2 linked regions of the Homo sapiens genome follow. The protein of the gene in region 1 binds, or shares a complex with, the protein of each later gene. Each region holds a gene or a part of one and is shown on either strand. Other genes may lie near its edges.

Region 1 (8,725 bases):
AATGAGTTGTCTACTGGACAAGGTCACTACAGACTCAGTGCCCAAAGTTTTTACTGAGGACAGGTCATCTAGGCAGGCTTTCCCTGGCAGATAGCAAAATTCAAGACTCTCAAAAGGAAAGCAGGTGTTCAGCATAAGCCATATTGTTTGCACAAGCAGTTCAGACACAGTAAGCCAGTCTTATCAGTTAATTGTGGGAGCCCCTCCAAAATCTAAGTTCCCAAATGCCGGCCAGTGGCCAACCCTGTAATCAGGCCTCTCCAAGGATAGCAGTTTAGGCCTGCTATGTTAACTCTTTTCTGCACAAAACCTATAGAGTTAGGGCTTTGGATCTGAGATGAATGAAGTGTGGGTAGATTTACTGAGTCCTGTTATATGGGTTCTGCCCTACCAGGAAAACTATGCCAGTTCTCAGGGCTTTTGTGCATTAATCTCCTAGGCATTTGAGGCTATGACTAAATTCCATAGGGATTTATCATGTGGATTCCACTGTGCTTGAGATGGCAGTTTAGATTTCAGCTCTGCTGTACATATTGCAAACTAGAGCCAAAGACTTTAAAGTGTGTACTGGCCTCAGGGGGATGAGGTTAATTTTTTTTTTTCATTTTAGATACTTTCCCTTTTAGTACTCCTCCTACTTTTCTTATTTTTACTAAAAAGGTACCACTCTATGAACAAACTAATAAAACAAGGCCAGTCTTGGAAGGAAAAAAATAATAATTCTTAGTGTGACAGTCTCCAAGAGAAGCAAGAATATAAGCTTAGAACAAGGGGTTAAGAATCCAGAATTCCTGGGTTCTTTTAACTAATTTTGCTACTCACTTGCCACTTTGGAGAGCTACTCACTCACTTTGGATAGGTTACTTGTTTCTTCTTTGCCTGAGTTTAAACCTATTGTGAATGAATGAAATACCCTGTAGTATATTTCATAAATACATTATGTGGCATTTTATTAATGGAGGTCTTTAATGTAGGGCTTTTATGGAAATATGAAGTATTTATGTATTTATTGATTATTTATTTTTACCATGTTATTGAAGTCAATGGTGTTTGATTAGCTCAGTGGGTGAGCAAGCATATGGTGCTACTGGAGTCAAGGCTGGTCAGTAGGAAGCATCAGTCCATTCCATGGCCACTGGTAATCTAACGTAATGAATGGTGTCTTTTGTTGTTGTTGTTGTTGTTGTTGTTGTTTGAGACAGAGTCTTGCTCTGTCGCCCAGGCTGGAGTGCAGTGGTGTGATCTCAACTCACTGCAACCTCCGCCTTCTGTGTTCAAGTGATTCTCCTGCCTCAGCCTCCCGAGTAGCTGGGACTACAGGCGTGTGCCACCATGCCTGGCTACTTTTTGTATTTTTAGTAGAGACGGGGTTTCACCATGTTGGCCAGGCTGGTCTTGAACTCCTGACTTCATGACCCACCCGCCTCGGCCTCCCAAAGTGCTGGGATTACAGGTGTGAGCCACCGTGCCCAGCCATGAGCGGTCTTGAAAATGAAAAATGGTCTTGGCCACAGAAACCAGGTATGAGGGAGTGGTTGGAATGGTATAAAGTCATCACTGTTAGGGAAACAGTAACTTTAAATGCATGTTAACAGTGGGTCTTTAAAAATGAATGTCATTTGGTTAAAGAGTTTTGCTGGGCATTGAGATAATCTGACAGCATCTCCACTTCCTGTTTTTTTTCTTAATCTCCACTTTTTTTTTTTCTATGATGAGCGCCCCTAAAATGCTGGTAAGCTTCTTTCCAACAAAATTGCGGTCAAAGTAGGATGCTGGGGAATGCTGATTTTAGCAAAAGCTTGTAGAAAAGAGTGGCCTGGCACATGAGCTTAAAAAAAAGAAAAAAAGCTGGCTCTTGAATTTTGGCACAGTGCAACCTGTTCCATACCAGACAAATGAACAGGCTTAATCTGGTACCAATTCTTTTTCTCTCTTACTCCTCAGAAGTGAAGGGACTGCAGATCTTGTTGTTTTGGGGACACTTTCATGGAACTGTATGTAGGTTTTTTTGAATGGTGAGAAATCTGAATAATTGGTAAGGGGAAGGGAATCCCTCATTTCAGCTTTTCTTGATGTTGTTACTAATAACTATGAAAAAACTTCTGAGAGAACAATGTGAACTGAAGATGACTCAGCAGTTAAGACAATGCTAAGTTCTGAAACCACAGGTAAATGAAGGGCTAATTAATGTGTGGTATACTTGGACAAAATGAAGTACTCATTTGCACTGGATTACTGTGTAATGATAACGAACACTGTTCAAGAACGATTTATATTTCCATAAGATTTGTACTAAATTTTATAAAAGTAAAACAACTTTTTATAAACCCAGAGTCTGTCTTTATATTTATGTGGTGGTTTTGCCAAGAAGTTAAAAAAAGCCTTTTGACCTGTAGAAATGTTGACCTGTATTCATACTTACTAGTGAATATCTCTAATCTGCTGTTCATTATCCATCATTCCCCCTATTTTTTTTTATTTTGGGGGGTAACAGTTGACATACACAAAACAGTTTGCCAAAAGAGAGAGGAAGAACCTTAATGTGTTTCTTGTTCTGCCACCTGTTTGGACACTTGTCTTGAAAATGTTGATGTCAAGTGAGTTGACATCAGAGACATCATCTGAAGACAGCTGGAGGCCCTGTCTTGAGGACTGTACTACCAATGCCTAAAACAGTCTGGGATGCATAGTAGATACTTAGTAAGCATGTTGAAAGAATGGACAAGAGGATGAGAATGTGGTTTAGAATCATCCCCATTGGAAAACCTCCTCAAAGGTTTTCCCAGTGGATTGGGTCATCAATGTCATTTTTCTAAGTAAAGTACTACGGACCCTGAGGAGTGTGTTCTACCCAGACTGGCTTGACTTTCTGAAGGCATCCTATAGTTACAGCCTTTAGAACAGTTGAGCTATCGGCAGCTTTAAAGAGGCTTTCAGTTTTTTTTTTTTTTAAATCATTAATGCTTTGTAGGTGACTATAGAGATTTTCATCATTTAAAAAAATTAGTTCTGGAATGAATAACCACTGGCTTAATTCAATCTTTTGCTTACCATCTTCTGAAGCTTTCCCACAGCAAAATGCCTTCTTTGCTCACAGCTAGAACCGTGGGTCTGTTTAAGTTTGGAAAGATCTTGAAAGCAGCTTGCCAAGAGGTTTTGTATGCAAGGAAGAGAAGGTGAATTAGGAAACTTTCCCAGTTTGTTTTATTCCTGAAGCTTAAGTATTGAGGCTTCCCTCAAGTATTAAGGGAAGAGAGGAACTCCAAAATGCATGATTTGATGAGTCATTGGGTTCAATTAATTTTATACTTACACTGTAACATTATTAGGATAGGGGAAAATAAGATATTTAGTACTTTTAAGAAAGATTTATTAAGTTTGGGGATAAGGTTTGCATTTTGGTCAGTATATATATGTATATATGTGTGTATATATATGTGTATATATATGTATATATATGTGTATATATGTATATATGTGTGTATATGTGTATATGTGTGTGTGTGTGTATATATATATATATATATATATATATATATATATATATGAATGGGATTCCTTCCGGTTGCATGTAAACACTCAATTTAAGAGTCTTCAGGGTAGAATTGTCATGCTAGAATACACCAGCAGGTGGCAATGTGTCCTGGTCTCATCATTAGGGAAGTGCCTTGGCTAATCTGCTTCTATTCTTTCCAAAAATAAACATTACAAAATTAGTTGGCTGTGCCTTGAACCTAAAAAATCGAGCAATAAAGAGTCGTCTCTGGTCTCTGTTTATCTTTTCCTTTTTTTCCCCCCCGTTCTAACTAACGTCAGCGTGAGCTCATGCCTCTATTCGGGGATAATGATCCTTTCATGAACTGTTGCGGAATGACTTTTTGCAACAGCATTGTTAAGAGGTAATTGTTTCCTCTCTCCACATCCACTGTTTATTAGATTTGATTTGCTACTTGGATTCCACAAAATGGCTGAAATCCCTTGTCACCAACATAGGTTTAAGCTCAAAAGTCTGAAAATAGTTGGATAAAGGGAATAGCCACTTTGGATGTTTGCAGGCAGAACTGAAGAACTGTATTACATGTGGTACCTAAATTGCCAAAATACTGAATTATTCAATCATAAAACTAGATGGGTATCTAAAGCTCTCTACCCAGTAGGGGAAAAAACCGAAAAACCGTTTGGGAATCCTTCAGAGAGAACCGTAATGCTATTTACTGGATAAATATACTTCATTTTCTTCTCCCAGTTCTTTCCACAACACGCTTGTTAAGTCGCCATGGAAAGCACCATGCTTTATCAATTTGGCAAATAACACATTTCATTTTGCCAAGGCAGAAACAGCCTAAAAGTAATATTTATACCGAGAAACCCTGGCTGCAGTCCCCAGCTGCTCTCCCGCAGCCCTGCGCCTCCGGCTCATGCAGCGCTCTCCCCCCGGAGCCGGCAGGTGCCCAGGTGAGCGGGGCCTGCGGAGGCAGCGAGGGGCGCCGGCCGGGAACCGGCAGAACGCGTGCAGCCAGAAGACAGGAGAGATAATACATTCCCTTAAGTAATAAAAGTTTCCAGGACAAGGGGGGCTGGTAATTTTCAAAGAGCCTCCCGGCACGATGTCCTCGGGATCTGGGGGGCGCTCTCGGGCGGTCTCTGGTGAAAGTCGACTTAGTACAAACTGGACTCGAAGGGGCATGTCTCGGCACTCAGGGGCCCAGGCGCCGCGGGAGGTGGGTGGGCCTCCCGGGGCTGCACGGGTCCCACCTCCCTCTGCCCCGTAGGACTACTTTGCCGCTCTCCCAAACCGGGCTCCGGCGGAGGCGTCCGTTCAAGGGCGAGAGCGCGGCCCTGAGCGGCGGAGGGATCCCGGGTGAGGCGGCTTCCCGAAGTCAGAGGGGAGGGGGCCATAAAGTCGGCGGGGGACGGGAAGCGCGAGCTCGCGCCGGACGCGGCCAGGGCCGGGAAACCAGAACCGGAACCGGAACCCGCGCGCGCGCCCGCGGTTGCGCGGCCCCCACGGCCGCCGGCCTCCTCCGCTGTCTGCGCGCGCGCCCGCGAGGGCCTCCAGAACCCGGCGAGCCGGCCCTGCGCCGGGAGACGCCGCCGCCTCCGCCTCCCGGACCAGGGCTTCCAGGCCGGGCCGGACGGGCATCTCCCGCCCCTCGCGGGGAGCGTCGGGGAGGAGCCGCCGCCTCTGGCGATTGCGGAAGAGTCCGGGCCTCAAAGGGATGGGGAGCAGTCCGCGGCGCTGAGAGACCCGGGTCCCTGTCACCTCGGGCCGCGGGACCTCTCCGCCGGCGCCAGCGGCTCGTCCCAGCACCGGGAGCCTGGTGAGGGCGGCGAGCACAGAAGGAGCCCCGGGCCCGGGACATGGAATCGCGCGAGCCCGGCGCGGGACGGCCGGAGACGCGGCCAACGCTGCGGCCACGAGCAGCCGGCAGCCCCAGATAGAGAGCCGGGAGGGAGGGCCCCGGCCCTTGCCGCGGCGGGGAGTTCGAGGCCCCGAGACTCCGGAGGAGGAGCCGACACCCGTCCGTGAGCTGATCCCGCCCCAGCCCCGGCGGGAGTCCCGGGTCCCCTTCCCACTGCGCGCGGATTTCCCTCTCTGAGGAAGTTTATCCTTGTGCCTTCTGGAGGATTTCTCTCTAGCTCGACTCACTCTGGACTGACTCGCTCCCTGGCTTTCTCAGTTCGTTTTGGGAGATAACTTGTTTTGCTCCAAGCCGCATCCGTTGACCCCTTACAGTCGGATGGTCTAGATGACTGAATGGAGTTTTGAGTTGGACTTTTGTGTCCCTGACGGAGTTGGGCCTGATCCCAGAGCACTGGGGGTGGGGAGGAGGTGTTACTGTAAAATGCAAGTTGGATAAAAGGAGGACCTCTCGCCAAGGGCCCCAATGAGTGGCACACAGTCTACTATCACCGACAGGTTGGTATGAATTCCTCCTTCGTTCGGCCTCCCGGAATCGGGCCCGACCTAGCAGGGGAGTCGGTGATTGCAGATTGCCTTTGGCCAGCGAAGTTGACAGGCAGAGGAAAGAGGGTTGTTTCGGAGCTGTGCAGTTAGCCTGGGGTTGCTGCCGAGTTATCCAGTTGATTGGCTTTTGGAAATGTAATTTTTCCGGAGAGAAACTTCCCTTCCGATTCTCAGAGAAGGGGGAGGCAAAACCATGATTGTGGTTTTCCGCCTGTAGTGTGCATTAGGATTGTGTACTCGTCTGGAAATCAGAGGAGAAGGTCATTTTAGGTGAAGGTCGGTGCCTGAAGTCGGCTCGGTATTGGTGTATTATTTATCAGCTTTAGCCGTGTCCTGCAGTAGATTCTCAAGACAATTACATTTTAGGAATTTCTACCTGTGAACTTAATGTTGAGCCTACTGCATGGTGATCTGGGAACTTGATCTCTTTCAGATGTTGACCTGCACGGTGTTTAATTATTATCTAATAACTTTCCAGAATGTTGACATTACCAGTAAATCACAGGTTCTTGCTGGAAGCAATGTCCAGGAGCTGAAGAAATGAGGGTAAATCATGGGGTTTGCTTTTAATTCTTGTATTTAAATATTTCGTCTTCCAGAAACACTTGGCGTTTAAGAGATATAAGCCGTAAGCATAGTGTAAGCGCGCAGCTGAATTTGTTGAGTTCTGTGTCTGTCCTTTATAGCACCTACCAGTGTTGCATGGTGGTGGGTGGCGAATTGAGCTAGACCATGTGTGGTTGAAGTGCAGTTTGCTTATCCTAAGTTACTCTTGTTTATAGGGTAAGGGATAAAAAGCATATTGATTCCTTGACCACATTTCATTCTCAATTTAATTATGACACTGCATGCTAGTCCCAAATTTGTCAGCTTGCTTTATTTTTAAGTCAGTCTTCGAATTATTACACCGTGAAAAAATAGATCAAGTAACTGAATTAGAGGGCCAAAGCTCTTTGATGAAAAGTGCAACAATAGTGCTTCTGCACAAAGTAGTCTTAATTTCCTAATAAGAGTTTTACCCAATTGTAAGACTCATTTGTTGATTTTAAAAGGGCCAAATTCCATTATCATACCATAACAGCTACTCCAGAAACAGAACTTCCTCTTCCTGTTGATGCTTTCCAGCATCACATGAATGTTCACTTAAAAGAGTCTGTTAAATATTTAAAGTATTTATATTTACTCTTTGTGTATTTTTCAAAGTGGGTTTTCATTTTCAATGAAATAATTTTTAACTTTTCCAAGAATACACTTAAGATAAGTATTGACAATGCTTATCTTACTTTCTTCTGGTTATCCCCATTTTTTTCCTTTCAGGGTGTTTTGCTTCTGAGAAATCACTTTTACGGGTGTGGGGATAATTGTTTTCCTGCTTCATTCAATTCTCGCTCTTTCTGTTGAGCCTGTAAACAAAAGTCTTGCTAGGAACTAATGTAATGTTGGTTTTCATTGCGATGCTGAGGTGTTTAATTTATGGAAACAGAACGGACTCATTCCACACACAAGTGAGTGAAAAGCCCTCAAGTAATGGTTTTTCTTCAGCATTGCTTCTCAGGGATTTTCCTTGTCTTCTCGTTATCTTGGAAATAGAATCTTGGAATTTGTATCCTCTTTATAACGTAGATGGCATATAAACATTCAATAAATATGAAATTACTGAAAGCCTGTTTCTTTTCTTTTTCTTTTTTTTTTTTTTTTTTGGCCAGGCACTGTGCAGGCACAAGAGATTACAAAATGAATATTGTAAGATTAATCTGCAAATTGGTTTGGGCATTAATGTTTTTTGAACTGGTTCAGGTGCTGCTGCCTAATTTTACATTTTTTTTTTTTAAAGAAAAGACCTTGGAAAGCCAATTAATAAGCACTGCTGAGACCTGTTTCGTAGGATTTTTTTTTACTAGGGTCTTTTTTTATTAAGAATTATTCTTATTTGACCACATTTAAATATATTTTGTAAATATAAAGCATCCATTTGCTGTTAAGAGAGTAGTTGTTCCTAATATGAATATATGTTGGGGTGAAATCTGGAGGTACTGGTTTAGTATTATTTCTCTGCCAAGGTGTCTTAACAAAGTTACGAGTATATAATAGTTTCTAGCTTTCTGTCAGCCCTACCTCATCCTTTTTTCGTAGTGTCTAACTCTTACTGTAGGTATATTTTGCTGACTCTAGAACTGTTGGAAAATTAACAGCACCAGTGTAGCTTTTTAGATAGAGATCCTTTCAAGTTTGAAGTGCTGTATGTGGTATGGCTTTGTTTCGTAGAGTGTGCAGAACCACCAGGCCAGCTGTGTGAGTTAGAGTTCTTTCATTGTGGTGCTTCTGACTACAGAGTCTGTCTGTCCTCAGTTGAAATCAGACTAGCTGGTTTTGGGCGTTGTTCTGTTTTGCAGTTTGTGGCAGGCGACACATGGCTGAACAAGATAAGGGTTTTATTCTTGTGTTAGGGACGTGCTGGGGCTGGGATGGAATTCAGCTATGTTTAGGCTCTGATTGGTCACTTTGGATACTCAGAACTCTGTTACATCCTGTTATTATTTTGCAGTTAAATCAACACATTAACTTGCTCTCTTCTCTTTCCCTTCATCTTTTACTCCCCAGTCCGCACCCCTTAAAACCTAAAACTCAAACTTTTTAAAAGACTTTAAACTCAAACTATGTTCATGGTAGCTATTACTTCTATGTAGTATATCCAAACAGCTTTAAAAAAAATGGTAAGCAATTTATGAGCCCTGGAGTCTGTAGTTTTCATCGTTT
Region 2 (7,598 bases), on another chromosome or scaffold:
TCTGGGGTTTCCACTGAAGCCCTGCCTCTCTCACCCCCTTGAGGTTCTAGCCCAGACCCTCTGCCACCCAGATGACTCCAGAGCCAAGTGGCACAGATGCCACTTGCAGGCTGACAGCCCAGCATGATTCTGCTCTGGCCTAACTCAAGTATTTCCTGAGGTCACTCTCAGGCCCCTCCATGGGGACATCTCTGAGCCTCAACTTCCTCACCTGGACGATGGAATTGGTGTCACCTAGCTTGTGGAGTTCTTGTGAGGATCAAATAAGACAATCAAAGCACCCCATGAAGGGCTTCACACACAACACCCCAAAATTATATCTGCTATTAGTGTTGTGGTTGTCATCATCAACATTTCAGAAACATTGTTCATAAACTCCCTGGAGTTACATTTTAGGGCGGTTTCAGGAATGGGAGAGGTGAAGGGGACACCTGTGCCACCAAGGGAAGCACAGCAGTGGGAAGACGCATGCAGGCAGACCCAGGCAGGCCTGGGGCTGAATCCCAGCTACCTTGCAAGAGCCTGGCTGAATCAGGGTACATGGCAGCTGCCAGGACAAGACCCCTGCTTGCTCTGTGATGAGATGGTGGGAGCCCTGGTCTTTCAGTGGCAGTTGGAACATTCTGCATTTATGTTTCCTGCCCCAACCAGCTCACAGGGCTGCTGAGGTTCCCAAGGGCTTCCCTGCAAAGGGGCAGTGTGAAGGGGGAAGGACCGTTGTGGCAGGAGGCCTATGCCCAACCCAAGAAGCAGAGGGAGGCCTTACCCAGGACAGTTCAGCCAGGACAGAGTTCATCTCTTGGTCGCTGGCTGGGACAGTCTGTCTGATGTCTGCATAGTACCTGCCAGAGAGCCAGGGCACAGCAGCTGCTGGGTAAACAAGCCCACTCCCCTGCTCCCAACCAGAGCCCACCCCCCAAGCCTCAGCTGCACACGCCCTCCAACCTCTACCCACCGTGCCCTCCAGTACCTTTCCACCATCCGCTTGTACCGGGGAATGTCCCGTGCATACAGAAGTTTGTTGATCGGGGAGTCCTGGACATAGCAGGAGGACAGCAAAAGAGGAAGGAAGGAAGGATGAGGGTCCCTGTTCGAGTGATCAAGTGTCCTGGGTTTCCCAGTACTGCTTCAGTTTTGAAAAGGAAAAGTCTCACATCCCAGGAAGCCCCTGAGTCCCGGAAAACCAGGACAGGTGGTCACCCTCGCCTACTTCCTTCCGCAGGAGCCTCTGCTGCTCCCTCCCTTCCACCAATGTCCAGTCTCTGATGTCATCGGAAATCATTTCTCAGCTCCACATGCCACCATCTAGATCCAGCAAGAGCCCGGTACGTAGGGCAGGACGCATGCTGTTCACTCCCAGGGTCATCATTTTAAAAATGAGCAAACAGACCCAGAACATTACCTAAGCGGCCACAGACCACCTCTCTCCCCAGTGGCTGAGCTAGGATTTGAAGCAGGTCTGTCCAGTTTCCACCACTTTAACACACCTAGACACAGCGTCTACAACTGAACTGGGTTCAAGTCCCAGCAGCCATGGGCTCTGGGCAGCATACTTCTATTCTCAGGACCTCTCCTCATCCTAGAGCTGCTGGGAAGGTGAGAATATCTCGAGGTGGCACTGTCCCCCATGAGCAGGGATCCAAGGCCAGCTCCTCTGTCAACCTGAGTCAGGATTCGCGCCTTCTTGACAACTCCCCATGGGGGAACCCTTGGCATTCTTTGTTCGGACTACTCCTGAGCTACCCAGGAACCATTTGCTGTTCTGCTGGGAAGGGGAGGTACTGGAAGGATCTGGCAAAAATCCCAGCCACCACATAGGGTCTACCCTGGAGGTGGCCCTGCGGGTCCTGGTGTGGCCCTTTGATTCTTAGCTCATTATAGGCATGATGACAGCATGTGGAACAAAAATGGCTCCCAAAAGACAGTGCTACAATTTTGGACAGAACTTTCCGTTTTTGTTTTTGTTTTCAGACAGGGTCTCGCTCTGTTACCCAGGCTGAAGTGCAGTGAACAGAGTAGTCATGGCTCACTGCAGCTTCAACCTCCCAGGCTCAAGCCATCCTCCCACCTCAGCCTCCCTAGTAGCTGGGACCACAGGCACACACCACCACTCCTGGCTAATTTTTGTATTTTTTGTAGAGACAGGGTTTTGCCATGTTGCCCAGGCTGGTCTCAAACTCCTGAGCTCCTCAGGCGATCTGCCCACCTCAGCCTCCCAAAGTGCTGGGATTCTAGGTGTGAGCCACCGTGCCAAGCTAATTTTGATTTTTCCCAGAGGTGTAGGGATGTATCTCTCAAGAAGTCCCAAGCCAACTGAGACCTGGGGGTCTAGGCTAAGCAGAGCCCCACTCATGGACCTGCAGAGTCACACGAGGGCCCTGCCCACTGGGTGCTTGAGCAGACACCTTGGGGACCTCATATGTCAGGGGACTCTCGGCTTTGACTGCTATGACAATAGACTCCCAACCTCTGTGCTCCCGGACGGCTCCAACTACTCAGTCTCCTGTGCTTCCCAGCTCCCCTCCTCACACATCCCTCAAACTGTGACACTCCATGAACTCTCTTCCCTACTTCCCTACTGGCAGGCAGACACCTCCACCACCCTAAGGAATTAAACCCAATCAGCAGCCCAGAGCTGCTCTGGGATTGAACAATCCATGTCTCTATCTGGAAACCCCACAAACACCAGACTCACCTTCTCCAAGTCTAAGCTTACCACAGCCAGAGGCCCAGGGATCATGTGTGACTCCCCTCCTTCTTCCTCATCCCCCACATCCAACCTTCAGCTTTTGCCTGCCCTGCACCCTCCCACCCGGCTTGAACCCAGCCACTGCTTGTCAGGACAGCACAGCGCCCTCTTGGGACTCCCTCACTCAGCTCATCCATGCACAGCAGCCACAATGTTCCACCAAACTCTCAGGTCTGGTCACATAACTTCCCTGTTCCCAGACCTTCTGTGGCTCCCACTGCCCCAGGAGTGAGTCCTGACCAACTGGCCCTGGCCTACTGCCACGCCTGGCCAGCATTCTATGCCCCAGCCACACCAGGCTGTACTTGCTGCACACAACTTCACCTGTGAATTGGCACACAGTGTCCCCTCCTCTTGCTCATCCCTTAAAACTGAGGTGGCCCCGGGATGAAGCCTTGGCTTGGGAGGTCAGAGGTCTCCCCTAAGCCCTCCTTGAAGTTCTCAGAAAAGCCTGGAATCTGAGTGCACACACAGCACTGTCCACCCTCACCCATCCCCCCGTGTCCATCCCAGACTCGCTCACCCGGCCCAGCTTGTGGTCGGCCAGGGTGCAGGCGTCCATGAAGGTCTGTGCAATGACAAGGAGCACCGCATCCATGTTATCAGATGTTTGCACGTCGAACACAAACTGCGGGTTTTTTATTATATTGATCCAGAACCTCAGAGGCAAGCTGCGGGTGGGGCAGGCATGGCCGATGAATGTGCTGGGGAGGCAGAAGAGAAGACCCCCCACACACACCTAGAGCCCACCCAGCTCCACCCCACCTGTTGGTCTTCCAGATGTGGATGGTGTCCTGGTCGGAGATGCCATGCTGCTGGGCCTGCTCATCCAGCAGGTCAAAGAAGTACTTCACAGCGAGCGGCACGGGGCGGCTGGTGCTGAGAATCACCTGGAACAGGTCATCCACGAACTTCTGCAGGGTGCCCTGTGGGAAGGAAGAAGCAGAGAGGTGTGGTCAGCAAAGGGCCCTCAGCAGCAGCCCAGCCTCAGACACCCCCCGGCACTGTGCCTGCACGAGCCCCACACCACCCCCAAATCCCACGAGTGGCCATGCTCCCTCTCAGCCCAGGCCCCACTACCTTGGCAGCCCCACCCCACCTTCATGGACAGCAGGCGGGTCAGGTAGATCTCAGGGATGGCCTTGGCGCGCTCACGCTCCCCGCCCCGAAGGCTGCCCCTCCGAGGCCTGGGCGGCTCCGGCTCATCACTTGGCTTCACCAGGTGCCAGGGCCGGATGCCCCCCTCATCTACATCCTCCAGCATTGGGGTCCCTGTGCCAAGAGCCCACAGCTGTCACCCCTCCCCAGGTGCCACCTCCCCAGGCCCCCTGTTTCTTGCCAGCTCTCCCAGGGGTGGGGGCACCTGGTTGAGGGATTTCCTGGGCCGAATGGAAATAGGCACAAGCCTGCCCTGAGGCCCAGAGGACCTTCCCCATGACTCCGGGCTGGGCACAGCAGGGGCAGAGGACCGTGATGGGAGCGGTACTCACGCTCTCCAGGGACATAATCCTGGTTTTCCCGGAGCACATGCTTGGTGAGGCAGGGGACGAGGGCCACAGTTGCTCCATCTGGGACCTGCTGAGCACAGCTGGTGATCCCTCCACCAGTCCCACCCCACCATGCCCTCCTCCAGCTCCCACTCCTCCTACCTTGTAATGCTGCAGTGTGTTCAGGCGCCTCCACAGACCCTGGACCTCAGAAGTGACATCCTCGTCAGAAAGAATGAGGTGCCCGGCCACCCCAGACCGCCACTCTGCAAGGGCAAGGCAGAACTGGGTGCAGGGCTGGAAGATACCCTTCCCATAGTGGAGCCCATCTCCTCCTCCACAGGGACACCAGCCCCTCCATCATGGGGCAGCCTTACTCAACCTCTCCAAAGACCAAGAGCAGGGACCCCCTCCCCAGATGAGAGGCTGTCCAAGAAAGATGTTCCAAAGCCAGCTTCTGCCTGCCTCCCAGCATCCTCCCCACCCTGAGTGATGAGTTGTCCCTGCAGAGTTGGTCCGGGGCCAGCCCAGGCCCAACAGTGGCTCAGGTCCCCAGGGGCTCTCCACGCCCTCACCAACATCAAGGGTGCGAGGGTCTGGCCGCTGGGTGAGAGGCACTCCTTTATAAAGCTGGTCCAGCATCTTCTCCTTTGCCTGGGAGATGGTGTCACAGTCTAGGACCTTCACGGGCACGCCCTGGGCCTCTCCTGCCCCAGGCCCCACAGCCAATAGTGCATTCAAGGTCTGTGCAGGACACACAGGAGCCATCAGGGTTCATGTGCACTCAGGATGACCAAGACACAGGCCAAGGGCAGAGACAACTCATGAGAAACTGCTGCCTCCAATCCCCACGCACCACACAATCCCTAATTCTCGTCTCTTCACCTGCCTGCCTTCCCCAGGGACAGCAGCTTCCTCCCCATTGTGACCCCAGCACCTAGCGCAGTGCACTTGTAAACCACTATGGGGTAAATGGCAGAAAAAAATGAGTGAGCACAAGTCCCTCATCACTCAGATCCCCAGGTTCCTGGCTGAATGGGTCAGGCTGACGGAGTTTCGGGAAGCCTGCATTCCCACCATCGGGAGCAAATATTCCCACCTATCCGACAGGGGAGGGGTTCAGCAGGCCTGAATGGGGGTTTCCCACAGGAACCCTTGTGCGTAACTAAGGGGAAAGCAAACCCAGAGAGAAGTGCCTGCCAGAGTGAGGCTGGCTTGGTGGGCAAGGCCGCATTCCTGGTAGGAGGGCCAGGCAGACAGGGTCAGGCCCTGACACAGCTCAAGCCCATGGTCTAAGGTAGGGCTGGCTTCTCCCAAACCCTGGTTGTGGCTACCCTAGTTCCATCCCTAGCCTGGGGCACATAGAGGCCTTATCATCAAAGTCTGCCCTAAACTGCTATCCTGCTAAGCTAGTCTGATGGGCTCTCTCCAGGAGCCAGCCAGAGGTCAACCCAGCTCTACATCCAGGTACCACATCAGAAGCTGGTGTCCAGACCCCACACACCCACACACTCTCCACCCTCGCCCTCACCGCACTCAGACTGCAGGCCACACACTTGCACACCCTCACCAGGGGACGGTACTCCACATCCTCTCTGAGCAGGCGGTTGTCGTTCAAGGTGTATTTGGCCTTGCCTGTCACACTGTCCACTGGCCCCTTATCCACTTGGTGCTTAATCCCTCGAAAGAGCATGTACAGAGGCTCCCCTACGGAGTCCTAGGAGAGCACAGGCAGTTAGGGCCCCCCAGCAGGTGGCAGAGGTGTATGGGACATGACGCACACTGGGGAAGGGGACAGGACATGGGCTTAAGGGGACTGAGGACAGGCTGAGCAGGAGTCTCTGCTCTGGCACAAGTGTCCGAGCTGCATGGTGGCTGAGGGCTTAGAAGTTTGGAGGGCCTGACCCTCCCTGGACAGGAGCCCTGTCCACCTCTGCCCCCTCACCCTCACGAAGGTATACAGACAGATGGACATCCAGTTGGTGAGCAGCTTCTCCACCACAGTCTCTGTCCTGAGATGATGGGAAAGGGGAGTGCCAGGGTCAGCAGGTGGGGCTGCGGGCCTCTCTATCCTGCAGACCCCCCAGCCCGAGGCCCCACCCCAGCTCCAGCTGTCCAGGGCCCACCCAGCCCCAACAGCCACACAGACCTGCGCAGCATCAGCTTGGGGTTCTTGGCCACATACTGGGCAACCAGGTCACTGAGCAGAGTGCGGAGGATGTCAGTGAAATACTCAAGCTTCCCATGCAGTGCCACGGTGAGCAGAGATGCCACGTAGGCACGGTCCCGAGCTGAAAAGGTGCGCTGGCTCTCCAGCGTGTGGATGAACTGCAGCCAAAGAGAAGGGATGGGAAAAGGGGTTTAGGGGGACAGAGGGGCGGGCTCAGAAACCATGCCCTGGAGAAGGGGCAGGGCCAGGGGCAGGCCAGGAAGATGCAGCTGGGGGTACCTTGGTGAGGAAGAGCTTGCTGTTGAGCAGGTTAGAGAGCTGCCCCAGCCCTTGCTCCACAGTGGGCCGTCTGCTCTCAGGCACACCCAGGTCCCGGTGCAAGGGCGACTCGCGGTGCCCAGGGAAGAAGATCCTCTCCGCATACACCTTGTAGTCGAGGAAGGGGATGCCGCTGCCCAGGAGGTCACTGGTGAGATCGGTCATCTCAGTCATGAGGTCTGTTAAGCAGAAGAGGCCAGGTTAAGCACCTGTTAAGCACCAATCCCGTGTGATGGGAGTGGGTTTGGGCAGAGTTCTGGAGGGCGGGGCCCATTCTCTCAGCCACACCTGTGAATTCCTTCTTGCAGCGGTCCCGCACACTGCTCTCCAGATTCTCCAGCTGGATCTGAACCTTCTTATAGTCCCTCAGGGCCTGCTTGCTCTTCCTCCTGCTCAGCCCCAGGGTCAGGAGAGGATGGCCAGATGAGTCCTACTCGCCCAGGCCTGCCTGACAATCCCCAGGCACACCCCGGCCTCATCCAGCACAGTCCAATGCAGCCATGCCAGCCAAGCTCAAGCCTAGCCCAGTACGATTCAGCCTGTCCCGTCCCAAGCAAGTCACACACACCCATGCCCCGTCTAGCCCAGCACAGTTTAGCCTAGAGATCAGCCAACCACAACCAGGCCAAATCCATCCCACAACCTATTTTTATAAAGATTTGTTAGAACACAGCCACTTTCATGTGTTTCCATGTCGTCCCTGGCTGCCTTTGTGCCACAGTGGCAAAGCTGAGTTGTTGAACAGAGACCACTTGGCCTGCAAAGCGAAAATATTTACTCTCTGGCCATTTACAGAGAATGTTTCCTGACTCCTGGCCCGGTCTGTCCCTTCCCAGTCCAGCCAGATCCCACGACCTGCCCCAGCCCAGCCACA

What was found. Proteins that work in one complex are often made in the same cells at the same time.
Region 2: the proteins of ARHGEF12 (region 1) and PLXNB1 are in contact, whole or in part, in an NMR structure (PDB 2OS6), measured with the Homo sapiens proteins. Residues at the interface, in NP_056128.1 of Homo sapiens: Phe82, Gly83, Leu84, Thr85, Val86, Ser87, Gly88, Asp89, His127, Val131, Lys135; in NP_001123554.1 of Homo sapiens: Glu2129, Lys2131, Val2132, Thr2133, Asp2134, Leu2135.

Annotation. Positions count from the first base shown.
Region 1 is NC_000011.10:120,331,356-120,340,080, forward strand, and holds the start of ARHGEF12 (rho guanine nucleotide exchange factor 12), read left to right. Parts: upstream 1-5,057; 5' UTR 5,058-5,888; coding exon 5,889-5,920; exon of another isoform or gene 5,921-6,514; intron 6,515-8,725. UniProt on the Homo sapiens protein: May play a role in the regulation of RhoA GTPase by guanine nucleotide-binding alpha-12 (GNA12) and alpha-13 (GNA13). Acts as guanine nucleotide exchange factor (GEF) for RhoA GTPase and may act as GTPase-activating protein (GAP) for GNA12 and GNA13.
Region 2 is NC_000003.12:48,406,057-48,413,654, forward strand, and holds part of PLXNB1 (plexin-B1 precursor), read right to left. Parts: intron 7,482-7,598; coding exon of another isoform or gene 7,331-7,481; exon of another isoform or gene 7,114-7,330; coding exon 7,013-7,113; intron 6,904-7,012; coding exon 6,686-6,903; intron 6,565-6,685; coding exon 6,386-6,564; intron 6,249-6,385; coding exon 6,182-6,248; intron 5,954-6,181; coding exon 5,807-5,953; intron 4,981-5,806; coding exon 4,812-4,980; intron 4,503-4,811; coding exon 4,399-4,502; intron 4,328-4,398; coding exon of another isoform or gene 4,325-4,327; coding exon 4,240-4,324; intron 4,022-4,239; coding exon 3,849-4,021; intron 3,676-3,848; coding exon 3,515-3,675; intron 3,421-3,514; coding exon 3,273-3,420; intron 1,036-3,272; coding exon 971-1,035; intron 843-970; coding exon 767-842; intron 685-766; exon of another isoform or gene 512-684; intron 1-511. UniProt on the Homo sapiens protein: Receptor for SEMA4D. Plays a role in GABAergic synapse development. Mediates SEMA4A- and SEMA4D-dependent inhibitory synapse development. Plays a role in RHOA activation and subsequent changes of the actin cytoskeleton.